Homo sapiens: one gene and its partners. The protein of the gene in region 1 purifies or fractionates together with the protein of each later gene. This does not show direct contact. Each region holds a gene or a part of one and is shown in the gene's direction. Other genes may lie near its edges. The genes, in order: TNIP2, PTGES3, PRRC2A, AMOTL1, PALS1, POPDC2 and YLPM1.

What was found.
Region 2: the proteins of TNIP2 (region 1) and PTGES3 purify together in Homo sapiens (affinity purification with mass spectrometry, with the first as the bait; one large-scale study listed by BioGRID). This does not show direct contact.
Region 3: the proteins of TNIP2 (region 1) and PRRC2A purify together in Homo sapiens (affinity purification with mass spectrometry, with the first as the bait; 2 studies listed by BioGRID). This does not show direct contact.
Region 4: the proteins of TNIP2 (region 1) and AMOTL1 purify together in Homo sapiens (affinity purification with mass spectrometry, with the first as the bait; 2 studies listed by BioGRID). This does not show direct contact.
Region 5: the proteins of TNIP2 (region 1) and PALS1 purify together in Homo sapiens (affinity purification with mass spectrometry, with the first as the bait; 2 studies listed by BioGRID). This does not show direct contact.
Region 6: the proteins of TNIP2 (region 1) and POPDC2 purify together in Homo sapiens (co-immunoprecipitation; one large-scale study listed by IntAct). This does not show direct contact.
Region 7: the proteins of TNIP2 (region 1) and YLPM1 purify together in Homo sapiens (affinity purification with mass spectrometry; 2 studies listed by BioGRID, with this or other methods). This does not show direct contact.

Annotation. Positions count from the first base shown.
Region 1 is NC_000004.12:2,743,631-2,746,977, reverse strand, and holds part of TNIP2 (TNFAIP3-interacting protein 2), read left to right. Parts: intron 1-1,442; coding exon 1,443-1,532; intron 1,533-2,032; coding exon 2,033-2,281; intron 2,282-2,471; coding exon 2,472-2,591; intron 2,592-3,347. UniProt on the Homo sapiens protein: Inhibits NF-kappa-B activation by blocking the interaction of RIPK1 with its downstream effector NEMO/IKBKG.
Region 2 is NC_000012.12:56,670,745-56,674,997, reverse strand, and holds part of PTGES3 (prostaglandin E synthase 3), read left to right. Parts: intron 1-1,932; coding exon 1,933-2,046; intron 2,047-2,188; coding exon 2,189-2,258; intron 2,259-3,150; coding exon 3,151-3,249; intron 3,250-4,253. UniProt on the Homo sapiens protein: Cytosolic prostaglandin synthase that catalyzes the oxidoreduction of prostaglandin endoperoxide H2 (PGH2) to prostaglandin E2 (PGE2).
Region 3 is NC_000006.12:31,623,101-31,627,353, forward strand, and holds part of PRRC2A (protein PRRC2A), read left to right. Parts: exon of another isoform or gene 1-110; intron 111-631; coding exon 632-809; intron 810-1,160; coding exon 1,161-1,260; intron 1,261-1,349; coding exon 1,350-1,422; intron 1,423-2,070; coding exon 2,071-2,214; intron 2,215-2,359; coding exon 2,360-2,511; intron 2,512-2,691; coding exon 2,692-2,771; intron 2,772-2,919; coding exon 2,920-3,062; intron 3,063-3,671; coding exon 3,672-3,762; intron 3,763-3,881; coding exon 3,882-4,098; intron 4,099-4,253. UniProt on the Homo sapiens protein: May play a role in the regulation of pre-mRNA splicing.
Region 4 is NC_000011.10:94,799,128-94,803,380, forward strand, and holds part of AMOTL1 (angiomotin-like protein 1), read left to right. Parts: intron 1-262; coding exon 263-1,184; intron 1,185-1,211; exon of another isoform or gene 1,212-4,253. UniProt on the Homo sapiens protein: Inhibits the Wnt/beta-catenin signaling pathway, probably by recruiting CTNNB1 to recycling endosomes and hence preventing its translocation to the nucleus.
Region 5 is NC_000014.9:67,244,033-67,248,285, forward strand, and holds part of PALS1 (protein PALS1), read left to right. Parts: intron 1-4,253. UniProt on the Homo sapiens protein: Plays a role in tight junction biogenesis and in the establishment of cell polarity in epithelial cells.
Region 6 is NC_000003.12:119,650,439-119,654,691, reverse strand, and holds part of POPDC2 (popeye domain-containing protein 2), read left to right. Parts: intron 1-78; coding exon 79-187; intron 188-4,253. UniProt on the Homo sapiens protein: Important for the maintenance of cardiac function.
Region 7 is NC_000014.9:74,779,713-74,783,965, forward strand, and holds part of YLPM1 (YLP motif-containing protein 1), read left to right. Parts: intron 1-692; coding exon 693-872; intron 873-1,621; coding exon 1,622-2,613; intron 2,614-4,253. UniProt on the Homo sapiens protein: Plays a role in the reduction of telomerase activity during differentiation of embryonic stem cells by binding to the core promoter of TERT and controlling its down-regulation.

The DNA of each region.
Region 1 (3,347 bases):
GGCTGTAGCTCTCTGTGGGGTCTAGTGGGAGAGAGAAGGACCGTGGGAGTTTCAGCATCAGGAGAAACCAGGGGGCTCCTAGGCAGAAAAGTAGGGGAGCAGTGGCCCAAGGCATCTGTGTGCCAGGCACCTTCCATCTTGCTGGTGCTTGTGGTGGTCTGTGTGTGGCAGGCAGGGGAATGGAGGCACTCCGTGCACATCTCACCTAGGCTGAGACCCCATCTCACTCGCACTGCCGGGCACAGGGCCTCTCGCTCGGGTCCTTTCTAGGCAGTTCTCTGAGGCAGCACCAAGGTTCATGCAGAAACACACGCGCTGGGATGTTCTGTGGCAGACAGTACATCCCGCACCCATCAGCAGCTTCACCGAGGCGCCCACTGGGGAGAAGGTTGGTCTGAGAACTGCCCACCTCAGCTGGGTGGATTCCAGGCGGGGAACCTCAGAGAGGACACAGCTGCATTCAGAAACCAGAGGAAAAGTGCCGTCTGGGCGGAGGCAGGGTGTTCTGGTCTGATTTTGAGTCACTGTGTCATTTCCCTCTGGGGATTTGAAAGGAGCCACACACAGTGTTGAGCCTGAGGCGGGGGTGGGGCCAGTGGCAGGGTAGGCCCTCATCACAGTCTCTAAATAAGTGTCACTTCTCAGCCCTGAACTCAGCTGAGTCACCCGGGGCTTCCCGGTGTAGGCTGTGTTAGGACGTGCACTTCCTTTGTCATTTGAGGGGAATTCTCAAAAATTATGTCACTGAGATACAGTCAGAATTGTAGGGTACACACGAGTTTCAGGAGACTTTTCATTCAGCTCTGTAGTTGTTAGTGGGGGTTGGTTTGGGTTGTGGCTTCGGTGACTCCTGACCCTGCGTGGGGCAGAGGTTAGATTCCTGTGTCCAGAATCACCTGGTTGAACCCGATTGTCTGCAGACAGGACAGTGTCATGGGCTCCAAAGGAGGTAAGCAGGGTGCATGGCCAGGCCCACCCTGGGCAGCTGGGGGCCCCCTCACTGGAGATCCTCTGGTTTACAATGGGATTCAGCTTCCTGCCTTCCCTGCTGTCTGTGATAATGGCAAATCTCTGGCAATGAGAAGACTTTATCATGTCTGGTGTGCCAATCCCTGCAGACATTATGGCTTTAGAATATTTACATTCCAAATATTTAAAAGACAAACAGCTCAAACTGGTAGGTGGGACGGGATAAGGACAGTGTGAAAGGTGGTGTGGCCTGAAGACCTCCCATCCGGGCTCTGGCCTGGGCCAGGTGGGGTGGGCCTGGGCAGGGAGAAGGTGGTCCCTTGTCCCTGCTTTGCTTCTCTACCAAATGAATGATCACTACCCGCTGCACTGGGGGACGCAGTGATAATCTGTGGCCTCAGCCTCTGGGTCTAGCTTTCTCCCCTCTTGCTGTATGTGACAGAGTGTCTTCTCTCTGTCCCTTCCTCATGCAGTCGGAACACACAGATGGGCACACCTCTGTCCAGAGTGTTATTGAGAAGTTGCAGGAAGAAAATCGACTGTTAAAACAGAAGGTGACTCACGTGAGTGTCTTTCACATTTCGTTTGAGAAGAACACATGGCTTACAAACTGTAAGTGAGGGTTCTTTCCTTGGCTGATGCCCAGAGTCGCCCCCCGCCCTCTGGCCACTAGGACTTGATACACACAGTCCCTAGAGACTGGACTTTTTTGCTTAAAACGACGTACGGGACATGTCCTGTCCATCTCCATCCCCCTAAAATTAATCCACAAGTCAGTAAAGGAGATGCAAGAGTTAGCAGCAGGAGGTCCATTTTCTAAGACAGCAAAGCTGCACCGAGTCCACCTCCGTTCATGCTGCTTGCGTACGGGTGTCATCGTGCTGCCTCAGGATTCTCTAGCGGGCCTAGTGTCTGCTCTCTACAGAACAGGGAGGGGCAGCTTCCATTTAAGAGGAAACTCTCACTCAGCGAATCACTGCTAATACATAATTCACACTGGGTGCTGGCTTGAGCAGCTTTGTCAGCTGCCTTCACCGTGAGCTTTCCGGCTCCACCTCTTCAGGTTGAAGACCTCAATGCCAAGTGGCAGCGCTACAACGCCAGCAGGGACGAATACGTGAGGGGGCTCCATGCGCAGCTCAGGGGGCTGCAGATCCCCCACGAGCCCGAGCTGATGAGGAAGGAGATCTCCCGGCTCAACAGACAGTTGGAAGAGAAAATAAATGACTGTGCCGAAGTGAAGCAGGAGCTGGCGGCCTCCAGGACGGCCCGGGATGCTGCGTTGGAGCGGGTGCAGATGCTGGAACAGCAGGTGTCTGTCCCTCGGGCTCCGGACGGCACTGACCAGATGTCTGCTGGCCGGTGGTGGCCGAAATCATGGGACAGGCTGGGCTGAAGGCTTGGTGGCACTGAGTGGGCAGTGGTCACTGTGGGGGTGGGAGAAGCCTGGTGGGGCGCTTCCTCCTTCCTTGAGCAGAAATGTGTGTCTCGCCTCTCTTCAGATTCTCGCTTACAAGGATGACTTCATGTCAGAAAGGGCCGATCGGGAACGGGCTCAAAGTAGGATTCAAGAACTGGAGGAAAAGGTCGCCTCTTTGCTGCACCAGGTGTCCTGGAGACAGGTAGAGTATGAGGGCGTTTTTCTTCCTGCTTAGGTTTAGTGTTTTTGTTTCTCTTCTCATGAGATTAGAGCCTTTCTGTGTCTGCCAAGGCCCTGATTTGCTGGTGATGAGGGTTGTGGCGAGCCCCTCCCTGCTGTGGGGAGAGCCACCTGGCCTGGTACCTGGGCGTGGTCATGGAAAGCCTCCCTGTTATACTGTTTAGTTATGGAGGAGGCTGGCATGGCGGCCTGTCTTAGCAGAGGTGGCTGTCCTCAGGGCCCGTCCGTCACTGTCATGCAGTCAGAGAGCATATCTCGGGCCTCAAAGTGTGAGCTCCCTACGTGTCCTGACCTGTCTGTGAGACGGGAACCCCGCTTACCTTGTCATGTAGATGTGATGGCCCTGGGTGTCCAGTAACATCCCCAGCTCAGCCTGGCACGTGGAGCTGGGCCTTGCAGGGCAGGGGCCCCTCACCCCACCCCTGGGCTCAGTGCTTTTCCTACCATGGGGTGCCTTGAGGGAGGCCTGGCATGAATGGGAACCGATGAAGTTCCTCAGTGTGTGACCCATGGCCTCTTCCTTCTCCTCACTGACTTGTGCTCTGCAAAAATCCAGGAGAAGTTTATGTAGCTCCTCATCAAGTACCTAACACACTTTTGGCCCTGGGAATAGCCTGGGCCCCACTCAAAGAGCTTCCTCTCCTGGCACAGACTGAACAGTAGTGATGCCTCTTGAGAATCGATGCGTCCCGGGCTGGAGCTAGGACGTCAGCCGTGT
Region 2 (4,253 bases), on another chromosome or scaffold:
AGTTTCACTCTTGTTGCCCAGGCTGGAGTGCAATGGCCTGATCTCGGCTCACCGTAACCTCCACTTCCCAGGTTCAAGCGATTCTCCTGACTCAGCCTCCTGAGTAGCTGAGATTACAGGCATGCACCACCACGCCTGGCGAATTTTTTTTTTTTTTTTTTTTTTTTTTTTTGAGATGGAGTCTTGCTCTGTTGCCCAGGCTGGGGTGCGGTGGCCTGATCTCAGCTCACTGCAAGCTCCGCCTCCTGGGTTCATGCCATTCTCCTGTCTCAGCCTCCCGAGTAGCTGGGACTACAGGCGCCTACCACCATGCCTGGCTAATTTTTTGTATTTTTAGTAGAGACAGGGTTTCATCGTGTTAGCCAGGATGGTCTCAATCTCCTGACATTGTGATCCTCCTGCCTCGGCCTCCCAAAGTGCTGGGATTATGGGCGTGAGCCACTGTGCCCGCCTGAATTTTTTGTAATTTTAGCAGAGACGAGTTTCTCCGTGTTGGTCAGGCTGGTCTCGAATTCTCGACCTCAGGTGATCCACCTGCCTCGCCTCCCAAAGTGCTGGGATTACAGGCGTGAGCCACCGCGCCTGGCCTGCTAAGGCTTTCATAAGAAAGTATCACACACTGGGTGGCTTAAACAGCAGAAATTTATTTCTTCACATTTCCACGAGGCTGAAAATCCAAGGCGAAGGTGTCAGCAGGATTAGTTTCTTCTGAGGCCTTTCCTTGGTTTGCAGATAGCTATCTTCTTTCTTCCCTCTGTGCTAATCTCTTTATATAGGAGGACAACAGTCATTGGATTAGGGTCTATCCTAAGACCTCATATTTACTTGTCATTTAAAGACACTTTCTCCAAATACAATCCCATTCTTAAGATGTACTGGGGGTTAGGACTTCAATGTATTAATTTTGAGGAAACTGATAAAATTCTAGATTGCTGAATTTGAGGAAAGGAGATTGATTCTCCTGGTTTCAGTGAACTTAATGTAAAAAGTGAAGCTCTGATGTACCAGTGTTTTTTGTTGTTGTTGTTTGTTTTGAGACAGAGTCTCTGTTGCCCAGGCTGGATTGCAGTGGCATGATCTCAGCTCACCGCAGCCTCCACCTCCCGGGTTCAAGTGATTCTTGTGCCTCAGTCCCATCCCTCAAGTATCTGGGACTACAGGCCTGCATCACCATGCCCAGCTAATTTTTTTTTTTTTTTTTTTTTTTTGAGACAGTCTCGCTCTGTTGCCAGGCTGGAGTGCAATGGCGCAATCTCGGCTCATTGCAACCTCCGCCTCCCAGGTTCAAGCGATGCTCCTGCCTCAGCCTCCCAAGTAGCTGAGATTACAGGCGCCTGCCACTGTGCCTGGCTAATTTTTGTATTTTAGTAGAGATGGGGTTTCACCATGTTGGTCAGGCTGGTCTCGAACTCCTGAGCTTAGGTGATCCACCCACCTCAGCCTCCCAAAGTGCTGGGATTACAGGCGTGAGCCACCGTACCCTGCTTTTTTTTTTTTTTTTTTTTTTTTTTTCCGTATTTGTATTTGTAGTAGAGTCGGGGTTTCGCTGTGCTGGCCAGGCTGGTCTCTAGCTCTCCTGGCCTCAAGTGACCCACCTGCCTTGGCCTCCCAAAGTGCTGGGATTACAGGTGTGAGCCACTGCACCCAGCCAAGTAACATAATTTTTGATAGGACTAGATAAACGGCTAACTCTACTAAGCATTGTTTGGTTTTTAAATCTTTCCTATTATGAAATTGGAATCATTCTGAAACTAAATCTTGTTAGACCCATAGGTTTTAACTTGGAATGTAGCTGTTAGGGTAAAAATGTAGTTTTTGTTTAAAATTGTAACAAACTGCCCTGAAATAATGCTATAATGGTGTCGAAGGTTAGTATGTGAATGTTTAGTTAATGAATTCCAGCTTGACTTTCCCTACTTTATCCTTTTGTAGGCAGCCTGCTTCTGCAAAGTGGTACGATCGAAGGGACTATGTCTTCATTGAATTTTGTGTTGAAGACAGTAAGGATGTTAATGTAAATTTTGAAAAATCCAAACTTACATTCAGGTAAGTTAAGCTTTTTATCCAATGATGTAAAATAGTCATTCACACAACTGAATAACTTTGACTGGCTTGTCTTTTCATTGAAGTTATTATTAATCTTTGTCTCTTTGAAGAGGCTTAATTCTTTCTTTATTATTTTATACAGTTGTCTCGGAGGAAGTGATAATTTTAAGCATTTAAATGAAATTGATCTTTTTCACTGTATTGATCCAAATGTAAGTAGTCTTTATGCTTTAATCCAAATTTTAGTTGTGAGGAAACAGACATACCAAGTATTCTTTTTAGCAATGAGCATTAGTTCTGTTTTTCTTAACAGTGAGGCAAACTATGTATATTTACATTTTGTAGAATATTTCCTCCAAAATTGGTTTCTGCATACTTTTTGTTTTTGCTATCACTGTTTGGGCTTAGAGTAGTATCCTTGAGGCTCGTCTCATCTTTTTTATTTGTTTTGTTTTTTTGTTTGTTTGGTTTTGTTCTTTGAGACTGCTGCAGTACAATGGAGCGATCCCGGCTCACTGCAACCTCTGCCTCGTAGGTTCCAGGGATTCTCCTGCCTCAGCCTCTGGAGCAGCTGGGATTACAGGCACATGCCACCATGCCTGGCTAATTTTTGTGTTTTTAGTAAAGACCATGTTGGTCAGGCTGGTCTCAAACTCCTGACCTCAGGTGTTCCACCTGCCTCGGCCTCCCAAAGTGCTGGGATTACAGGCATGAGCCACTGCGCCCGGCCAAGGCTTCCCTTATCTAAGAATAGAATCTTTAAACCATTCTGTGGTTATATCATTTTTAGTTAAAGTTTTTAAGGTTTTATTCTGTTTATCGTGTGCAGGAAAGAAAAAAATGGTACCAGGTTAAACTTTAAACTTTATTGTTGTGCAGATTATTTCAGTAGGAAATAGAAGGGAAAAAAAAATTTTTTTTTAAATGAAACTTAAAGGGGGTTGGGGCAGTTGGATAGTTTGAAGTTTTTAGTAGTCAAGGGCATGTTTCAGAGTCCAGAGAAAATTTAGGTAAAGAAATGAGAAAGGTGAGAAATGACAAGCTATTTTCTATCATGTAGTGATGCTGGAAAGATAAATGGTATGATGGTCCTTTTGTTTTTAGGATTCCAAGCATAAAAGAACGGACAGATCAATTTTATGTTGTTTACGAAAAGGAGAATCTGGCCAGTCATGGCCAAGGTTAACAAAAGAAAGGGCAAAGGTAGGTTTCATTTTCCTTTTTTGAAAAGTTTGATATTTTTATTTTAGGTAATAAAAGATGTACTTATTTGATGTAAGGAATATGGCTGTGTTTTTGTTTCACAGCTAAGTATAAAGCCTCATGTTCATGTTTTTTGTCTACTCAGTTTTAATACGAAGTGTGATCAGAATATCAGTTATTAACTGGTGTAGAATCTTTTGTACTTAAGAGACAGACTTTGCATAAATTACTCAGCTATCACATGGGAGGGGACAAAGCTTGGTGAAAAAATAATCAACTGAAAATAGTTCTTACTAGTAAATTTGTTTTCAAAAGGTATGTTTAACAATTTTCAGTGTTTTTTTTCCCCCAAAACAGGGTCTCTCTTTGTCACCCAGGCTGGAGTGCAGTGGCACGATCTTGGCTCACTGCAGCCTCAGTTTCCCAGGCTCCAAGTGATCCTCCCTCCTCAGTCCCCCAAGTAGCTGGGACTGTAGGGGCATGCCACAACACCTGGCTAATTTTTGTATTTTTTGTAGAAAGGGGTATCACAGTGTTGCCCAGCTTGGTCTTGAACTTCTGGGCTCAAGCAGTCTCCCCACCTCAGCCTCCCAAAGTGCTGGGACTACAGGCATGAGCCACGACACCAGCCTAGTCTTTTTTTTTAGGTAGTCTCATGCCACTCATGCCAGAGTGCACTGGTGTGAACATGGCTCACTGTAGCCTCCACCTGGGCTTAAGCGATCCTCCCACCCACCTCACCTCTCCAAATAGCTAGGATTGTAGGAATGTGCCACCACGCCCAGGAAATTTGTTTTTTTGTTTTTTCCCCAGATACAGGATCCACTATTGCTCAGGCTGTCTCGAACTCCTGAAGGATTACACAACTAGTCTTTCCACCTTGGCCACCCAAAGTGTTGGGGTTACAGGTGTGAGCCACCTCATTTAGCTTAGTCTATTCTTTGTGTGCTAATTACATGCCCTCCTAAAAATACAAAGTCACAGTTCAAAAAATATTGTTTTGC
Region 3 (4,253 bases), on another chromosome or scaffold:
TGGTTCCCTGTCTTTGGACACGTAAGAATTGGAGGAAAATAAATGTGGATTTGGGAAACTTTGAGGCCAGCTTGCTTCTTGCAGGCTCATGATCAACCAATCTCACATAAAAGTATTGAATGTTACATATCTCAGCCTTCTTGATAGGGATTTCATAGATTTTTTTTTTTTTTTTTTTTTTTTTGAGACCAAGTTTAGCTCCTGTTGCCCAGGCTGGAGTGCAATGGTGTGATCTTGACTTACCACAACCTCCACCTCCTGGGTTTAAGCGATTATCCTGCCTCAGCCTCCTGAGTAGCTGGGATTACAGGCATGCGCCACCACACCCGGCTAATTTTGTGTTTTTAGTAGAGACAGGGTTTCTCCATTTTGGTCAAGCTGGTCTTGAACTCCTGACCTCAGGTGATCCGCCTGCCTCGGCCTGCCAAAGTGCTGGGATTGCAAAGTGTGAGCCACCACAATCAGCGCGATTTCAGAGATTATTAAGGGCAGGGGAAGGAATCCCTTCTAAGAGAAGTTTGGAGGAAGTAGGTAATAAAATATTCAACATGTATAAATGTGTCCCAGGATAGGAGGCCATCAGATCTCCCACATGAGGCATTTTCGACCCTCTCTCCGTCTTGTTCTCCAGTTGCCCCTCGCCATGGCCTGCAGAGTCTCGGGAAAGTTGCCATTGCCCGGCGTATGCCACCTCCAGCCAACCTTCCAAGCCTGAAAGCCGAGAACAAAGGCAATGACCCCAATGTCTCACTAGTGCCAAAAGACGGAACAGGATGGGCAAGCAAACAGGAGCAGTCCGACCCCAAGAGGTAGACAGAGGCTTGGGGGACCTAGAGTGATGGGTATTTTAACTTGAACTTCAGGGAGCATTGGGGCTTGGTTTAGTCCAGCCACGTCTGAGCCAGAGACGAAGAGGTCCCTTTCTTACCTATTGCAGGTTCCTTGTTAAATGACTAAGGAATGGTACTAAACTTTAGCTTTTTGTCTTGGAGAGAGAGCATGAAAAAATAGACAACAGCCTACAAAGGATGACAAAATTAATTTGTCCTTATATTTGTAAATGGTAGCAATGGGCATGATTTCAGTCCTGAGTCTCCACCAGTTGGAGAAGTCAGGGAGGCATCTCAGGTGTGAATAACCTTCCCATTCTGTCCCCTCAGTTCCGATGCCTCAACCGCTCAGCCGCCGGAATCGCAGCCACTGCCGGCTTCACAGACGCCTGCCTCCAACCAGCCGAAACGACCCCCAGCAGCCCCCGAGGTACCTGGAGAACTGGAGGGGTGGGGAGGAAGAATGGTTCATAGCTGCCCCACCCACATCATTTATCATCTTTCTGAACACTTCCCCAGAACACTCCTTTGGTTCCAAGCGGGGTAAAGTCCTGGGCACAAGCCAGCGTCACCCATGGAGCACATGGAGATGGTGAGTGCAGCACTTAATTGGGGAGCTGTGTCTGGGCACCATGGGATGCATGAACCCTGCACTGTATTTTCAGCCAAGTGACCTTGGTCCTCTTTGGCTAAATCAAGGACCACCCATATTCAGTTTCATGGAGGCACATGAGCAAGTTTAAGTCTCAGTCTTATATGATGGAGTGTAGTGGTGCCAGAACTGACCTCCTTGGGGAATAAGCAGTTATTCTGTAGGGGGGTGAGTTTGAAGGCGGGAAACCTGATGGTCTGGTACCTGTCAGAGCCTTCCACTTTTTTTTTTTTTGAGACGGAGTCTCATTCTGTCACCCAGGCTGGAGTGCAGTGGCGCAATCTCGGCTCACTGCAACCTCTGCCTCCTGGGTTCAAGCGATTTTCCTGCCTCAGCCTCCAGAGTAGCGGGACTACAGGCACACGCCAACACACCCAGCTAATTTTTTGTGTGTTTTTAGTAGAGATGGGGTTTCACATGTTGGCCAGGATGGTCTCGATCTCTTGACCTCGTGATCCGCCCGCCTCAGCCTCCCAGAGTGCTGGGATTACAGGCGTGAGCCACCGCGCCCAGCCAGAGTCTTCCACTTTTATAGCATGTCCTCAGGAAATGTCTTCTGTCTCCTGTTCTGCATCCCCATCCTAATAGGTGGAAGGGCATCAAGCCTACTGTCACGATTCTCTCGAGAGGAATTTCCGACCCTGCAGGCGGCTGGCGACCAGGACAAGGCTGCCAAGGAAAGGGAGTCTGCCGAACAGTCGTCTGGGCCCGGACCAAGCCTCCGCCCCCAAAGTGAGTGGCTGCCTTTTGGCCAAGACATTACCTATTGCATCTCAGAGCTAGGTGCTGGCTTATTCACCTTCCTCCCCATCACTTTCAGCTGTGTTCACTTGTCCTCCAATCATTGATACCTCTCTCTACCTTTTCCAAAATACAGATTCTACAACTTGGAGGGACGGAGGTGGGCGTGGCCCTGATGAGCTGGAGGGCCCGGACTCCAAACTTCATCATGGTCATGATCCCCGGGGTGGGCTACAGCCTTCAGGCCCACCCCAGTTCCCTCCCTACCGCGGAATGATGCCGCCTTTCGTGAGTCTTGGTGTCTTGTCTTGGAACGATTACACTGGAAGCTGGAGAGCTAGGAATCAGGACTTAGTCTTTGACCTATGAGATAGAAGGGAGGGTGGGAGGATGATTGATAGCAGGCTTAAGGAGCTAGAAGGGTATATGACTGTCCCTCTGAGCAGCTACTGTTGGACCCTTTTACAGATGTATCCCCCATATCTCCCGTTCCCTCCGCCCTATGGACCCCAGGGGCCTTACCGATACCCCACTCCTGATGGGCCCAGGTGAGCAATCCAGGTCTGGGTTTGTGGCTGGGGGCAGGGGAAGCTTATTGGGGGAGGAGATGGTTTTCTAGCCAGGAGGCTCAGTCTAGGATCAGTCTCGCATGTGGTTATACAACATGCCATATTTCATTTTCTTTTTTGTGTACAGCCGTTTTCCCCGTGTGGCGGGCCCCCGAGGCTCAGGGCCACCAATGCGCTTAGTAGAGCCTGTGGGTCGTCCCTCTATTCTCAAAGAGGATAATCTCAAAGAGTTTGATCAGTTGGATCAGGAGAATGATGATGGTTGGGCAGGTAAGTGGATATTAAGGGTCAAGAATTTGGATCTTGAAAGGCAAAACCTAATGAGGAAAAAAAAATACAGGGTTATGTGGGTGAAAGGCAGACATTGAAGTGTAGGAAGACCAGGCCCAATGGCTCACATCTGTAATCCCAGTGCTTTGGGAGTGTTAGGTGAGAGGATCGCTTGAAGCCAGGAGTTCAAGACCAGCCTGGGCAACACAGCAAGACCCCCCACCTCTACAAAAAAAAAAAAATTTTTTAGTTGGGTGTGGACTGTGCATCTGTGGTCCCAGCTACTCTGGAGGTTGTGGTGGGAGGATCAGTTGAGCCCAGGAGTTGGAGGTCACAGTGAGCTATGATCGTGCCACTGAACTCCATCCTGGGCAACAGAGCGAGACTTTTAAAAGGAAAAAAAAAAAAGAGTAGGGGAGGATGGATGGGGAATACCAAGTCCTTGCAAAGTGGTGAGAGGAGTAAGAATGACAAGACTTCATTGGTGGATCTAGACTTCGGAGGGAAGGATATTGGCATTGGTAGTCCATCTTGTTACATAGTTCCAGACTACCTCCCAAGATTGGAGGGCAGAATGCTTGGGTTACTAATACTCATATTTCCCCTCAGGGGCCCATGAAGAGGTTGACTACACTGAAAAGCTCAAGTTCAGCGATGAGGAAGATGGGCGAGACTCTGATGAGGAGGGTGCTGAGGGCCAGTGAGTTAGGGCCATCAGGGGAGAAGAGGAGGGGGTCTTGGTTTGTATTTTGGTAATATACTCTTAGAGGAGTATATTAGTTGCAGCTGATTTTAATTTCACTGTTGATCTGCTCACAGCAGGGATTCCCAATCAGCTTCTGGTGAGGAACGGCCCCCTGAAGCAGATGGCAAAAAGGGCAACTCCCCCAACAGCGAACCGCCCACTCCTAAGACGGCCTGGGCAGAAACCTCTCGGCCTCCAGAGACAGAGCCGGGACCTCCTGCCCCAAAGCCTCCCCTACCCCCACCTCACCGGGGCCCCGCCGGGAACTGGGGCCCCCCTGGGGACTACCCAGTGAGTGTCTCCAATAAGGGATTGAGAGGGTCAGCTGTGGGAAATTGGTGTCAGCTGAGTAATTGAAGCGGTTGTGATATAGAGGAAGGGGGGTGCTAAAAATGGGCTGTGTGAAGTGCCAGGCTGCAGAACATCCTGGGAAGCTTTTAAATATC
Region 4 (4,253 bases), on another chromosome or scaffold:
AGATTAGAGAAAAGGGAGGGGTTGAAGGATGGAACAATGTTTAAGAGGAAGCAGAGGAGAGGGAGTGCAGAATAGTAGACTCGCTTTGAATTGGAGAAGAAAATTCCATGAGACATTGCCAGGTAAATGGAGGTGATGATGCATTTGAAATCTTATTTTTAAATGTTGCTGTAGTTAGAATGTTAATTATGTACCACATAGTCACAGACATATATCTCCTGTGGAGCTGCCTGATATCTTTTTTCCTATGTTTATCTTTTAGTTGAAGATCCTCTTTGTAACTTCCACTCCCCAAACTTCCTGAGGATCTCAGAGGTGGAAATGAGAGGTTCCGAGGATGCGGCAGCTGGAACAGTATTGCAGCGGCTGATCCAGGAACAACTGCGGTATGGCACCCCAACCGAGAACATGAACTTGCTGGCCATTCAGCACCAGGCCACAGGGAGTGCAGGACCAGCCCATCCTACAAACAACTTTTCTTCCACGGAAAACCTCACTCAAGAAGACCCACAAATGGTCTACCAGTCAGCACGCCAAGAACCGCAGGGTCAAGAACACCAGGTGGACAATACGGTGATGGAGAAACAGGTCCGGTCCACGCAGCCTCAGCAGAACAACGAGGAACTGCCCACTTACGAGGAGGCCAAAGCACAGTCGCAGTTCTTCAGGGGGCAGCAGCAGCAGCAACAGCAGCAGGGGGCGGTGGGCCATGGTTACTACATGGCAGGGGGCACCAGTCAGAAGTCCCGAACTGAGGGGAGGCCCACTGTGAACCGTGCCAACAGTGGACAGGCGCATAAGGACGAGGCGCTGAAGGAACTGAAGCAGGGCCACGTCCGCTCGCTCAGCGAGAGAATCATGCAGCTGTCCCTGGAGAGGAATGGGGCCAAGCAACACCTTCCCGGCTCGGGGAATGGAAAGGGCTTCAAAGTAGGAGGGGGGCCCTCCCCTGCCCAGCCTGCAGGTAAAGTGCTGGACCCTCGGGGTCCTCCACCTGAGTACCCCTTCAAGACCAAGCAAATGATGTCCCCAGTCAGCAAGACCCAGGAGCACGGACTTTTTTATGGTGACCAGCACCCCGGGATGCTCCACGAGATGGTCAAGCCCTACCCTGCTCCTCAGCCTGTGAGAACAGATGTGGCCGTCCTGCGGTACCAGCCACCCCCTGAGTATGGGGTAACGAGGTGATTATCAACTGCAGACGTTTCGTGCGGCTTTTCAAAATTCAATAGTCATGTTATTAGCATTTATTATTTTCAGAGCAGATTAGGTTTTTGTCATCAGGCTTTTTTCCTTATGCATGATATTTAATAAACCACTTTGTGGCCAGAATATATAGGGTGAAATAGAGTAGAGGGCAACTGAGGGATTTTCTCCAAACATAGCAGCAGGCAGTTGGGGATTTATGAGTTTAGGGGAGGGACCTCACTTGTTAGCTGTCCTTGGGAGCTCTGCCTAGTGGCCTGGCAAAGTAGCAATTTTCCAATGGCTTTGTGGAGACCGTCCAAACTCCTGGAACATATTATTACCAGAGGGTTTTATAGTCTTTTTTCATTGTAGATTTTAAAGGAAAATGTAGTCTGAATGCTAGAATGGAGGAGTTAAAGGGACTGTAGAAATCACATAGTCCCATCCCTCACTCAACAGATGAGAAACTAAAGCCTGGAGAGATTAATGAATTTCATAGACACAACTCTGAGGCAGCTGGGGGCTACACTCAAGTATCCTGACTGCCAAAATCTATTCACTCCCTTGCCCTAATTCTTCCTACAGCCTTCACTTGTATTCTTCCAGTTGATTGATGGATTCAGCAGCACCTACTGAGTGTATGCTGTACTCTGAAGCCCTGTTCCTGGTTCAGAGATGGGGTCCCTGCCCTTCAGGACCCTATAGCATTGTCTTGGAGGAAACCAGCATCTGAACAGATCATTGCCATTCAATGTGCTGTTCTAGGAGAGAAATGGGCCGAGGATGCTAGGGTAACAGGTAGGATAGTATAACTCACAACTGGAGGGGCTGGAGAGAGCTTCCCAGAGGAGGTGACATTTGAGTTGGAACTTGAAGGATAAATCAGAGTTGTAGGGTAGAGATGAAGTAGCAGTATGTGCTGTGTGAGGGAGTGCCGTGTCTTCAGACAAAGAGGTCATGAGGATTTTTGTCTGGAATGAGTGGCAATAATGCAGAGCACTGGTGGGCAAGGGTGTGGTAAGAAGTGACAGGAGATATGTTTGGACAGGGAAGTTGGGACCCGTTTGGTTGAGGTATGTTTGGACAGGGAAGTTGATGATGACGGTCTCTGGGTGTCGTATTAAGGAGTTTAGAATGTATCCATAAGCAATCGGGAAAAGCGGTGTTCTTAGGTAGGGATGGTAAGTGGATGTCTAACAGCTGATTTTGGTGGCAGTGCATGAATTAGAGGAAAGGGAGCCCCACGCCACAAGGAGCTCCAGGGATGCTTTCAGTAGTCCAGATCAGAATTGGTGAGGGTGGCCAAAGCTTGGGCAGGGAGAATAGAGGAGCATTATGTGCTAAGAGAGGTAGGGAAATAGAACTGACAGGGTTTAGGGATTGGTTAGATACAGAAATTCTGGAATAGGGATGATGGAAATAAGGGAATTACGAATCAAACTCTCAGGAGAGAAATTGGGTCTGAAGATCACACTTTGGGAGTCAGAAATGTTTAGATGTTGCTGACATTGAAGGAGGGGCAGGGAACATGAACAGAAAAGACATGTGGCCACTGCCTATTATTGGATGTGTCATTTTCATGAAGGGCTTTATTATCTGTTTCTAAATTGAACAAGCCAGGGTTTTCCCAAGCGACCTCAGTGGCTATGTGCAGGACATACCTTGGCTGTACATCTTCTGAAAAAGGAGAGGCTGGAGGTTGGCAGAGGGAGAGTGGCCTGATCTGCCACTGGCTTCCCAGCACTGACACATTTCCCCACATTAGACTGAGAATGCCAGCTCAGAAGCAGCATAACCAACTGTGAGATCTTGGCCAGGCAGGAGAACGCATTCTCCCTAAGTGGGCATAACCGGACTCCTCCCAGGAATCCAAGATGGGATCCAGGAGGCTCTTCTTCCCCCTTTATAGCTCCTTGATCAAATCCCTGGTATTTGCATCACAGTGATTTACCACAGTTGTTTAAAATAAGCCATGATGTTATTCCACCATCATACCAGAGTTTGGCTTATTATATTTCACCCTTTTCCCTGATAACTTAACTCAGCCTCTAGAGCTTGATAGAGGGGAAGCTATCCTGAAATGAAATCCCCTTCCTCTTCTTTGCTTTACTATTTGTAAAGTAATATGTACATACCGTGCAATGCATACAGTGGATCACTTTGCCTTTTGTCATTTGGTAATAGGTGTGATGTGAGGTGGGAGAAATGGTCAGGGGAGGAGGGGAACACTTTTGGAGGTCATTTTTCTCAAAGTTATGACGTTAGAAAGAAGAAGAAATGTGTGAGGGATTTGAGCTGACTGCCAGGCTTGGCAGCTGGTTAATATGACGCATCAAATGTCTCAGGAGACGTAACAGACAGGCCATTGAGGCTGGGTCCCAGAGCCACAAGGCCCCTTTGTGAACAGGGCCATGGCTAGCCAGCATGGCTCCAGTGGTGCAGCCCTTGGCTGACTGGGTAAACAATATTGCATCCACACCAGCCCTGCTTCAGACACATTTAACGTGGCCTGAACTCGAAGGATTGGACCTGAAACTCAGCAGTGTGTCATGTTCAACTTGCCTGTGACCCAGAAGACAAGTAGGGCCCCTTTCATTTCACTGACACATTATCTTGTGCTTAAAGGGTTATCTGTTTGTCATTGATCGTGATGGTTTAGGAAGCTGCAGGCCATTGTGTACATACGTACAACCACATAGACTCTTGGACTAGAAAGAGACGCCTCTGATGGAGATCATGGAGTCCATCTCCCTGGCTGGTGCCCATACTGGTGGGCTCAGTATGTAATGAGTACTCAGTAGTTTGGTCCAACCCATTACATTGTTGAGACTTCACTCCTTTTTGCCTAGAGGTAGAAAGCTCCAAAGAGACAAGTGATAGAACTTATGAGAAGAATAAGAATTTGAGTTTTTTGTGATCACTCTTGACTCACCATAGCTTACAAATTCTCTCACCTGCTCTGATGCGCCCTAAAGATGGAGATGTCTGGTAGGTGATTATAAGGCCCTTTAGGCCCCTTTCCTGGGAACCCTCTGGGAGATGAGGCCTTGACCTCGTTGACTTGA
Region 5 (4,253 bases), on another chromosome or scaffold:
TGTCTCATTGTTAGATAAACCAATAAGTTGCCTTTTCCAAATCACTTAACTGGCAGGATTCTTTCTGTCATGGATTTTTTCCGTTTTCTTTTTTAATAACTACTAACTGCAATTCATTCCCCTACTGAAGAATTTTCAGTTTTTTAATATTTCAAACAATGTTTAATGAATATCTTTGTGTATGTCTCCTTGAGCGCATGTGTGGACGCTTTCCTAGAATGTATGTATACCTACCTATAAGTGGAATTGCTGATAATAGGTTGATATGTGTTTTCAACATTACTAGCTACAGCCAAATTACCCTTTTTAATGCTGTAATCATTTACATTCCTGCAAACAGTATGAGTGACAGTGGCTTCACATTCTTGCCCACACTGGGCATCGTAAGATTTTAAAATTTTTGCTAATCTGGTGGATGAGAAATGATATAATTGCTTCTTTTCTTTAAAAAATATTTAACTCTAATTTACATGAAATGAAGTTAACTTTTCATTGTACAATTCCAACTCAGAGAGCTGTGCAACTACCACAATCAAGGTAAAGAACAGTTCCATCACCTATCCATTCACCAGTTGAAGGACATTTGAGTTGTTTTCAGGTTTTTTGTGACTGAATAAAGTGGCTGTAAATCTTTGCAAATAGGTTTTTGTGTAAACCTAAGTTTTTGTTTCTCTTAAGTAGATGGAATATGGTAGGTATAGCCTAATTTTATCTTAAAATTAAAAAAAGACCTATCTGTGGTAGACAGAATAAAGGTCTTCAAAGATATCCTAATCCCTGGAACCTGTGAATATGTTTGCTTAAGTGGCAAAGGCTTATTTAGGTTGCTAATCAGATGACTTTAGGGAGATTATTGTGGATTATTCAGGTGGTCCCAGTGTATCACAGAATCTTTAAAAAAGGAAAGAGAGAGGCAGAAGAGTAGAGTCAGGAAAAAAAGATGTAACAATTGGTCAGAGAAGTGCAAAGTTGCTGGCTTTGAAGATGGAGGAGAGCAGGCCACAAACTAAGGAATATGAGTGGTGTCTAGAATCTTGAAGAGGCTCCAGAAAAGAAAGCAGCCCTGCCAGTAATTTTAGCCAAGGGAGACATATGCCAGATTTCTAACCTATAGGACTGTAAAATAATTTCTGTTGTTTTAAGCCACTAAATTTGTGGCAATTTGTTACATTGGCATAGGAAACTAATACATTGTCAGGCTGGGTTTGAAGTGGCTGAACCACTTTGCATTTCCACCAGCAATATATGAGAGGTCAGTTGCTTTACATTCCTGTCAGCACTTGGTATGGTCAGTCTTTAGATTTAGCCATTTTAGTAGTATCTCGTTGGGATTTTTCTTTGCATTTCCCCCATGACTGAGGATGTTGAGCATCTTTTCATGTGCTTATTTGCCATCTGTTTATCTTTGGTAAAGTGTCTGAAACTTTTGCCCATTTTTAAATTGGATTATTGTCTTATTGCTGAATTTATTATTATCTTATTATTTTTTCCTTTTTTCTTTAGGGATGGGGTCTCACTATGTTTCCCAGGCTGGTCTCAGAACTCCTGGGCTCAAGTGATTCTCCTGCCTCAGCCTCCCAAAGTGGTGGGATAACACGCATGAGCCGCTGCCCCAAAAGTTTTATATAGTCCTTTATCTTTGTCAGATAAGTGATTTACGAAGGTTTTCTTCCACTCTGGCTTGCCTTTTCATCCTCATAACTTCTATACTTCATTACTTTTGAAGTATAGAATTTTATATTTTGAGAAAGTCCAAATTATTAATTTTTAAAATTTGAATATTGTATCTAAGAACTCTTTGCTCAATCCACGGTCAGAGAGATTTTTCTCCAATTTTTTTTTCCAAGTTTTATATTGTAATTTTATTTTTAGATCTATGTTCCATTTTGAGTTTATTTTTGTATAAAATGAGAGAAGTACAAGTTGTTTCACTTATTTGTTTGTCCAGTTCCATGACCATTTGTTTAAAACATGATCTTTTTCCCATTGTATTCCTCTTGTCTCTTTGTCAAAAGCTATTTGACTGCATTTGTTTGGGTTTGTTTATGGACTCTTCAATTGATCTATTTTGTCTATCCTTTTTATTTTTTATTTTTATTTTATTGTATTTATATTTTTATTTTTTATTTAGAGACAGGGTCTCTCTCTGTCCAGGCTGGAGTGCAGTGGTGTGATCTCTGCTCACTGCAGCCTTGGCCTCCCAGGTTCAAGCAATCCTCCCAAGTAGCTGGGACCACAGGCGTGCCACCGCACTTGGCTGATTTTTAAATTTATTTGTAGAGATAAGGTCTTGGCTATGTTGCCCAGACTGTATTATTTAAAAATTTTTTGAGACAGGGTCTCACTCTGTCACCCAGGCTGGAGTACAGTGGTGTGAATATGGCTCACTGCAGCCTCAACCTCCAGGACTCAAGCCATCCTCCCACTTTCCCCAGTGGCTGGTACTATAGGTACATGCCACCATGCCAGGCCGATTTTTAAAATTTTTTGTAGAGACAAGATCTCCCTATATTGCCCAAGCTGGTCTTGAGCAGCTGAGCACAAGGGATCCTTCCACCTCAACCTCCAAAAGTGCTAGGATTACAGGTGTTAGCCACTGAGCCTGGCCTACTATAGGTTTTTTTTTTTTTTTTTTTTGAGATGGAGTCTTGCTCTCTCGCCAGGCTGGAGTGCAGTGGCACGATATCAGCTCACTGCAACTTCCCGCCTCCTGGGTTCAAGTGATTCTCCTGCCTCAGCCTCCCAAGTAGCTGGGATTATAAGCGCGCACCACCACGCCCAGCTAATTTTTGTATTTTTAGTAGAGGCGGGGTTTCACCGTGTTGGCCAGGATGGTCTTGATCTCCTGACCTCGTGATCTGCCTGCCCCGGCTTCCCAAAGTGCTGGGATTACAGGCGTGAGCCACTGCACCCAGCCTACTATAGCTTTAAAATAAGTCTTCACATTAGGTAATGTGACTCTTCCACTGTATTCTTTTTCAAAATTGTTATGACTATTTTTAGTTCCTTTGCTTTCTGTATGATATTTAGAATCATCTTGATAATTTATACATTCTGTTGGGATTTTGATTGAGATTGTGTCTAATTTAGAGATCAACCTGAAGATAATTGACATCTTAATAATTTGAGTCTTCTCATCTATGAACATGCTATTTCTTTCCATTTATGTGAGTATTGTAGTTTTCAATATGCAGATCTTGCAAATACTTTATTAAGTCTATACCTAATTATTTTAATTTTTTGGTCCTATTGTAAATGGTAATCTAAAAAAATCAGATTCCAGTTGATCACTGATGGTATATAGAAATTAATTTTTGTATATTGACTTTGTATCCTGACTTTCTGCTAAACTCCCTTATTAGCTCTAGGAGCTTTTTTATTTTAGTAATTTTTTTTGGAATTTTCTAAGTAGACAGTCGTGCTCAAAACTTTTCTTTCCTTCTAGTCTGTATGCCTTTTATTTCTTTTCCTTAACTTGCTGTATTGTCTTGGTTAGGACTTCCACTGAGATGTCGAATAGGAGAGATGAGAAGTAGCATCTTTATCTTGTTCACTTTTTTTTTTTAAGATAGGGTCTCACTCTATCCCCAGGCTAAAGTGTAGTGGCGCAGCACTGCTCACGGCAGCCTCGACTTTCTGGGCTCAGTTGATTCTCCCATCTCAGCCTCTTGAGTAGCTGGGACCTACTGCAAGTGCCACTATGCCCAGCTAATTTTTTGTATTTTTAGTAGAGACAGGGCTTCACCATGTTGCCCAGGCTGGTCTCAAATTCCTGGGCTCAAGCGATCTGCCCACCTCAGCCTCCCAAAGTGCTGGGATTACAGGCATGAGTCACAGTGCCTGGCTTCTTGCTCACTTTCTTAAAGGAAAAGTATTCAGTCTTTCACTTTTAAAAAATGATATTAGCTGTAGGTCATTTTGTGCATTCTGTTAAGGAGGTTAAGGAGGTTTTCTTCTGTTCCTAGGTTACTGAGGGTTTGTTTTTTAAATCATGAATAGATGTTGAATTTTATCATATGCCTTTTCTGCATGTATTGAGATGATTGTGTGAACTTTTTTCTTTAATCTGTTAATATGGTGAATTACACTGATTTTTCAAATGTTGAACCATATTTGCATGTTTCTGGGACTAACTCTGGGGTTATTTTAAACAAAAATCATTTTGGATTTTTAAAAACTAATATACATTAACATTTATTCTTAAAAATGAAGGAGCAATGTCACATGCCTGTAGCCCCAGCCAATTGGGAGGC
Region 6 (4,253 bases), on another chromosome or scaffold:
GCGACACCTAACTTCAGCATAGGTGGCTTGGAGAGCCATTTTCCTTTTCCCACATGATCTCTTCTCTTCCCTTGCCAGGGTTCGTGTGAGCCAGGATGGGCAGTTTCTGCACTACATCTTTCCATACCAGTTCATGGACTCTCCTGAGTGGGAATCACTACAGCCTTCTGAGGAGGGGGTGTTCCAGGTAACAGGGAGCCTGGTGGCAGCACCGCCTCACCCCATCCCACTGTAGCCCAGCAATATCCGTGCCTCCATGTTTCCCCTCTTACATCTGTCCTTCGCACCCCTGCCAGTGTGAAGCTACAGGCGGGGGCACTCTTCCTCTGAAAAGAGTTCCTGGGCTCCTAGCCATAGGTGAGGTAGGGTAGGAAGATGCTGGCCCCTGGGTAGACCATGTTACTTGTATGCTTAAACTCTTCTGGAAGACCCTAGTGCCACAACATAAAAACCCACACTTGTTATAGGGTAACTTAAACCTTTTAGTGCTCTCTAGTCGCATTTCCAGCTCTCCCTCCTTCATATTTTTTGCTCATACTAGCCATGCTGAACCACTAGTACTTCCCTAAACACACCACATTGTTTTGCAGCTCTATGCCTTGGCCCCTACTCTCCCCTCTGAAATGCATTTCCCCTTCTAGATGAGACCACGGAACCTCACTTCCACTGTGAAGCCTGCTTCCACCCCACAGCCTCACCAGCTTCCACCCCACAGCCTAGCACTCCTGTGTGCCTGTTCTAGTCCTTTTACTTATGCTAACTGGTGCACATCTTGCTGTCTGTTCTAATAATCTGGTCTCCTTTCTGTCTTCTGCACAGTGAACTCTGAAGTACAAATCTAGGCTTTTCCCTCTCTGTTCCCAGACTCTAAAGGAAAGTACCTGGAGCACAGCAGCTGTTCAGTAAAGAATTGCTTGCCGGGCGCGGTGGCTCACGCCTGTAATCCCAGCACTTTGGGAGGCTGAGGTGGGTGGATCCTGAGGTCAGGAGATCGAGACCATCCTGGCTAACACGATGAAATCCCGTCTCTACTAAAAATACAAAAAATTAGCCGGGCATGGTGGCGGGCACCTGTAGTCCCAACTACTTGGGAGGCTGAGGCAGGAGAATGGCGTGAACCCGGGAGGCGGAGCTTGCAGTGAGCCGAGATTGCGCCACTGCACTCCAGCCTGGGCGACAGAGTGAGACTCCGTCTCAAAAAAAAAAAAAAAAGAATTGCTGAACTGGTTTGCCACTGGGCAGCTGGTGTCCCAGAGGACTCCATGGGGCATTCACATACATGCTCCAATGCAGGTTCCTGGCTGCCTGGCCCCTACTCTTCTTATCTCTGCCAATCCCTCAGGCTTTGGTCACTTTCTTTGTAGCTCTCACTTATTGAATGGCTAGCATGTGGCAGGCACTACGTATCATATTGCCTCATTGATTCTCATAACAACTCTATGGGTTGAATATGATTATTACTCCATTTAACAACTGAGGAAACTAAGGCCCAAAAACATCAAGTAATTTGCCCAGGGTCTTCAGCTAGAAAGTGACAAAGCCAAGTTGCCTGGATCTACCATTTCTGTTCTTTATTAAAATGGGAAGGTCACCAGAAGAGTAGAGTTTACACACACACATACACACACACACATGCACACGCATGCACACACGCGCACACACACTCACTCACCCTTTTAAGGACTCCCCTGCCTGGATAGTTTGCTGGACCTGGAAACACTGGATTCCATGTGTCTCCTACTACTTTTATCAGGGAGTCCCTCAAGCCAACATATGAGCCAACCCCGGAACAGACACACACCGGGCAGTGCTACCTGGCAGGGCCTGCTTCTGCCCCCACCCTGACACTTGGCTCTGTGATGATGGAGCCTGAGAGGCAGTCCTGATCCCACTGCCAGGGTCACCAGCCACAGATCCACTTCCATCATGTTCCTACCCTGACCTCCGTCCACACACCCTCCCTAACTAGTCCAGAAACCTTCTTCAGGAACTCTCTCAGGCACATGAGAACCTCCAGGAGGGCTCAGTCAGGACCTGAGCCAGCTGGACCAGGCCTCTTTCTGACACTGACACGGAGGAACAGGTGGTGGGTAAGCCGGGTGTCCTCCCCTAAGTTACGCTCAAGAGGAAGGGCTGTAACCTCACATGGCCTCTCAGCCTGGAATGTAGGTATGGTCATGTTCCTCCCATTTATATTTTTAGCGTGTACCTCCTTTGGGAGTAATGAGAGCCACACATTTGCTATTGGCTGTGTAAAGTCCCATTTCCTCTTTGCAAATGTCAAGTGTTATCTTAAGTTAGAGTTCATCCTGTCCTTGCCTTTTGCAATTACATAGTCTTTGTTGACTGAGAGCAATCCACAGTGACAGCCTAAATTATAATTCACATTGTACCTAATATAAATCAATCAGCATTCCAGCACACCTCTCGACAATTCAATTAAGTCAGAATTCATTGTGTGTTCGGCACTGTGACACTCATTAGTCACCAAGAACACAGCACAGGAGGGATCACACAGAAATCATCACTGTTTTTCTAATTTGCATCCTATCTTACTGGACCTAAGTCCTATTTACATAGGTTATCTCATTTAATTCATTCAACCAACATCTGAGATGAGTATTAAAAAAAAAGCTAAATACTTGTCAAAACGTTACAACAGATATGTCTATATATATGGGAGAACCAATCAAGAAGCAGATTTCAGGAGGACCTTTGGGGAAGGATTTTATACAGGACATGAGAAAGCAACATTAGAGGCTGGGCGCGGTGGCTCACACCTATAACCCCAGCACTTTGGGAGGCCGAGGCAGTTGGATTATGAGGTCAGGAGTTTGAGACCAGCCTGGCCAACATGGTGAAACCCCATCTCTATTAGAAAATACAAAAATTAGCCAGGGTGGTGGCAGGTGCCTATAATCCCAGCTACTCGGGAGGCTGAGGAAGGATAATTGCTTGAACCCGGGAGGTGGACATTGCAGTGAGCTGAGATCACACCGCTGTACTCCAGCCTGGGTGACAGAGCAAGACTTCGTCTCAGGGGGGCGGTGGGGTGGGGGAAGAAAGTGACATTAGGTTGTTTTGCAATATACAAGATTGGCTGTCTTCCCTTGATTCATTTATTCACTTCAATAATATTTATTGAAAACTTAGTATATACCAGGCACTGTTAAAAGGATTTGAAATATATCAGTGAACAGAACAGATGAAGGTCCCTCCCCTCATGCAATTTACATTCTAATGGGGGAGACAAAAAGCCATAGGCATAATGAATAAGTAAATTATATAATTTGTTAGAGGATAATCACTGCTAGTTTAAAAAAAAAAACCTAGAGTAGTGCAAGGGAGAAATGGTGGCAATTTTAAATAGGGTGGTCATGGAAATCCTTGTTAAGCAGATAACATTTGAGCAAAAACCTGAGAGAGATGACAGGTGAGGTCTGTGAATATCTGGGAAAAGCATATCAGACAGAGGAAAGAGCCAGTGCAAAGGCCCTGAGGTGGGGCCAGTGTGTTTGATGCACAGAAAGGAGGACAGTGGACCTGGAATGGAGAGAGGAAGGGGAGGGAATAGCAGGAGAGAAAGTTGGAGAGGTGACGAGGTAGCAAGATCATGTAGGGCCATAGCATATATTGTCTAGATACAGCCAAAAGGATTTTCTAAAGGGTTGGATATAGTATGTGAGAGAAAGAGAAGATCAAGGAAGACTCTAAGGCTTTTGGCCTGAGCAACTGGACAGGTGGTGCTGCTGTCAACTGAGACAAAGAAAGCTGCAGGTAGAGCTGCTTTCGGGGGACTAGGAAGTTCAGTGTTTGATGTTAGGTTTGCATCATCTGTGGACATTTGAATGGAGATGCTGCATAGGCAACTGGATATTTAAGTCTGAAATTCAGGAATGAGATCTGGGCCTGAGACATAAATTTGGGAGTTGGTTGTATGCAGATGATATTTAAAGCCATTGGATAGGATGAGCTCACCAAGTGAGTGAGTGTGGATGGAAGAGGGAATGGTTCAAGAGCGGAGCCCTGGGATACTTTAGTGGTGAGGAGTTGGAGAGGAAAGGAGGAAGCAGCAAAGGAGCTTGAAAAGGAACAATCATGAGATTGGGCAAGGAGTGTATGGCATCCTGGGAACCAAGTGAAGAAGATATATCAAAGAGGAAGGGGAAATTGATGGATGCCATGAAAACTGACCATCAGACTCAGCAGCTTAGAGGTCATTGGTGACCTTAACAGGAACAGTCTTTGTGGAC
Region 7 (4,253 bases), on another chromosome or scaffold:
CTCACTGCAGCCTCAGCCTCCCAGGCTCAAGTGATCCTCCTTGCCTCAGCCTTCCAAGTAGCTGGGACCTCTCTTCCCTCCCCTCCCCTCCCCTCCTTTTTTTTTTTTTGAGATGGAGTCTTGCTCTGTCGCCCAGGCTGGAGTGCAGTGACGCGATCTTGGCTCACTGCAACCTCTGCCTCCAAGGTTCAAGTGATTCTCCGGCCTCAGCCTCCCAAGTAGGTGAGATTACAGGTACCTGCCACCATGCCTGGCTAATTTTTGTATTTTTAGTAGAGACGGGGTTTCACCATGTTGACCAGGCTGGTCTTGGACTCCTGACTTCAAGTGATCCACCCGCCTTGGCCTCCCAAAGTTCTGGGATTACAGGTGTGAGCCATGGTGCCCGGCCTGGGACCACTTTCCACTGGGAAAATTGTTGTCATATTTAGGAATAATAAGATTATTATTCCAGTGAAGACTATGGAATTTATAAACTCCTTTGTATTAGTATCCATAATAGTATAGATAGAGCTATGTGTTTTATCTAAAGATAGAATAGCTGTTCTCAATCCAAAAAGAACTGAAGATACTGTGTTTGACAGTTGGATATTTCTGAGTTGTAGGGATTCTGGACTTTATAATACATTTATAAAATATTTTTGCTTGCTGTTTTATGACTTACATAAAGATGTGTCCTCTTTTATCTTTAGTCTGAGGACCCAGAAGAAGATGCCAGGTTAAAGCAGTTGCAGGCTGCAGCAGCACACTGGCAGCAGCACCAGCAGCATCGAGTCGGTTTCCAGTATCAGGGAATAATGCAGAAGCACACTCAGTTACAGCAGATTCTACAACAGTATCAGCAGATTATACAGCCCCCACCACATATACAGGCAAGTGCTTCCATAGTCCACAATAGGAAGTTGCCCCAAGACATTGAAAGGATTTGTTATTCTTGAAAGATTTAAGTGTAAAAAACAAAAGATACCAACTGTTGACAATTAGTTGTTTCCCAAGGGGTGCCCAAGTAGTTATCTGCCACATTACCTGGGGGACTGGGGAGGGGTTGGTTATAGTAGAGTTTCCTGATCATGTCAACCCAGGCCAGATGTTAGCTTACTATTGCTAAGGGTCTTAAGAGCTGGGGATTTTTACCATATAGCTACAGGTTAACCTGTGTTTTGCCTGTAAACTACAACAGTAACAGATAAGCAAAGAGGCCAAAAACAGCCATCACAAAAAACCTAAGCAAATATACCGTAAAAGATAAAGTGACTTAGATACTTGTTTGTGTTGTATCTTTGAGGGGTAATGTTGTGTCTGTATATCTATAATAACAGATCATTTTTCAAGTTCTTGAAATTATCCATATTAAAAACTTGAAAAATACTTATTGCTAAGATAGGTATTTGCTTTATTGTTTGGTTGGTTTTTCCAACTCTGTAGTAAGTTGTCTAAGCCAAAGGAAGGAAGAAGAATGATCATCACTCAAAGAACTTAACGAACTTATTCTTAGCCTCCCAAAGTCTTTAGTGTTCTAATTTCCTAAAGCGTCAAATGCCCTTGATTCATTAATATTTTAACCTATGATTAATTATCTTATATGAATGGTTTTAAATAGTTTTTATCCCTTTATTTGTAGACCATGTCTGTAGATATGCAGCTGCGGCATTATGAGATGCAGCAGCAACAGTTTCAACATCTTTACCAAGAATGGGAGCGAGAGTTTCAGCTATGGGAGGAACAACTCCATTCCTATCCTCATAAAGATCAGCTTCAGGAGTATGAGAAGCAGTGGAAAACATGGCAGGGACATATGAAAGCCACTCAGAGCTATCTCCAGGAGAAAGTCAATTCATTTCAGAACATGAAGAACCAGTATATGGGGAACATGTCAATGCCACCTCCTTTTGTTCCATATTCTCAGATGCCTCCACCTCTACCTACAATGCCCCCTCCAGTGTTGCCTCCTTCATTGCCACCACCAGTGATGCCCCCTGCCCTCCCTGCTACAGTGCCACCACCTGGCATGCCCCCACCTGTTATGCCACCTTCTCTACCAACCTCTGTTCCCCCACCAGGGATGCCTCCTTCTCTCTCTTCTGCAGGGCCACCACCAGTTCTCCCCCCACCTTCCCTGTCTTCTGCAGGGCCACCACCAGTTCTTCCCCCACCATCTCTCTCTTCAACAGCACCTCCACCTGTCATGCCCCTCCCACCATTGTCTTCAGCTACACCTCCTCCAGGAATACCTCCCCCTGGAGTTCCACAAGGGATACCTCCTCAGTTAACAGCAGCCCCAGTTCCACCAGCCTCCAGTTCACAGAGCTCGCAAGTTCCAGAGAAACCTAGACCAGCACTGCTTCCTACTCCTGTGTCTTTTGGTTCTGCCCCACCGACAACTTACCATCCTCCGTTGCAATCAGCTGGTCCATCAGAACAAGTGAATTCAAAAGCTCCTTTGAGCAAGTCTGCTCTGCCATACAGTTCATTCTCATCTGATCAAGGACTTGGGGAGTCTTCAGCTGCTCCATCTCAGCCAATCACTGCAGTGAAGGACATGCCAGTGAGATCAGGTGGCCTGCTTCCAGATCCTCCTAGAAGTAGTTACTTGGAAAGTCCAAGAGGCCCAAGGTAGGTCTGCTTTTTTTTCTCTTTTTTTTTGGTTTGGCTATTTTATTGACTTAGGCTATTTGGTTCTCGATGGTATAAAAAGCTTCATTTATACAATGTTTATACTCTCTTTGTACTTATATTGTCTGCTTGTTAAGACATCACGTATGTAATCTAGAAAAGGTAACATGCCCCCATTTCTTTGATGTCTCTGCTTTTGTCCTATATGTAGAGATTATAATCCAGAATGAATGTAGTATTGTAGAGTAATGCTAATCATTTTGTATTGACTTATTAGCTTTAAAAATAATATTAAACTTTATCTTTTGTTTGCTTTTTCATTCATTTGACAAATAATTGAATTGGCAATTACTATTTGTTAGATAATTTGTTAGTTGTTAGAGATAAAGATGAATAAGCCAATATTCTACTGGCTTGAGGCAGTGAAATTTAGCATAAGGTAAGTAGGACTTTTATTTTATCCATTCAGCAAATATTTAAGTTCCTGCTCTTGTACTTAGAGCAGTGAATATAGCAGAACACATAAAATTCCTGCCCCCATGGAGCTTACATCCTTTATATTTTCCCCAGTTAAGGAGATACTTCTGTTTATCCTGAACAACATATTTAGAAAGAAAAAAAATTGCTGGTGTGTAAGTTTTTTCTCTTTACCTTCTAAAAACTGTTAAATTCATTTTTTCCAAGTTTGTAAAAATAGATTTTTCTCCCCAAGTTGACCTAAATGATAACTTTTCTATGGAAATTATTATTATTTTTTGAGACAGGGTCTCGGTTTTTCACCCAGGCTAGTGTGCAGTGATAGAATTATGGCTCAGTGCAGCCTCTTCCTCCTGGGTTCAAGCAGTCCTCCCACCTCAGCCTCCCAGGTGGCTGGGACCAGAGGTGCGCACCAACACATCTGGCCAGTTTTTAAAAAATACTTCGTAGAGATGGGGATCTTCCTATGTTGACCAGGCTGGTCTCAAACTCCTGGGCTCAAGCGATCCTCCTGCCTTGGCCTCCCTGCCTGCCGTGGCCTCCCAAAGTGCTGGGATTACAGGTGTGAGCCACCACGCTCAGCCAGAAAAATACTTTAATCAGTTTTTTTCTCAGTTGGGAATTGTAGTAGAAATGGGTACTCCTTATACAAAATTCAAACATTACAGAAAAGTGTAGAAAAAAGTGAAAGTCACCTAATTCCACCATCTGGAGAGAATCATTTTAAAAATATATGTTGCAGAAATGGGATCATACTGAGTAGATTATCTTATAACTTATTTTTCCACCAATCTGCGTATTGCTTAGATTTTCATCTCAGTATCAGTGGATCTACATCATCATTTTTTTCAACCTCATTTTAACATTTGAAAACAAAATATATCTTTTATTCCCCAAGCTTATAATTCTGAAAGCAGTGTGGCACAAAACTCCATCCACAATCAAAGTTAAGAGAAAGGGCAATTAACATGAATTCCTCTGTGTACCAAGAAGCCTTGCTAGAGACTTTACACACATTATTATCTCATGGAAGTCTTCTCAACAACCTGTGAAGTAGGCAGATTATTCTCCATTTACTCTTAACAAAATGGCACTGAGAGGACTGCGTAACTTGCTCAGTCAGGATTATTTAGCAGAGTGAGTAGAACCCCAGAATAGGTACA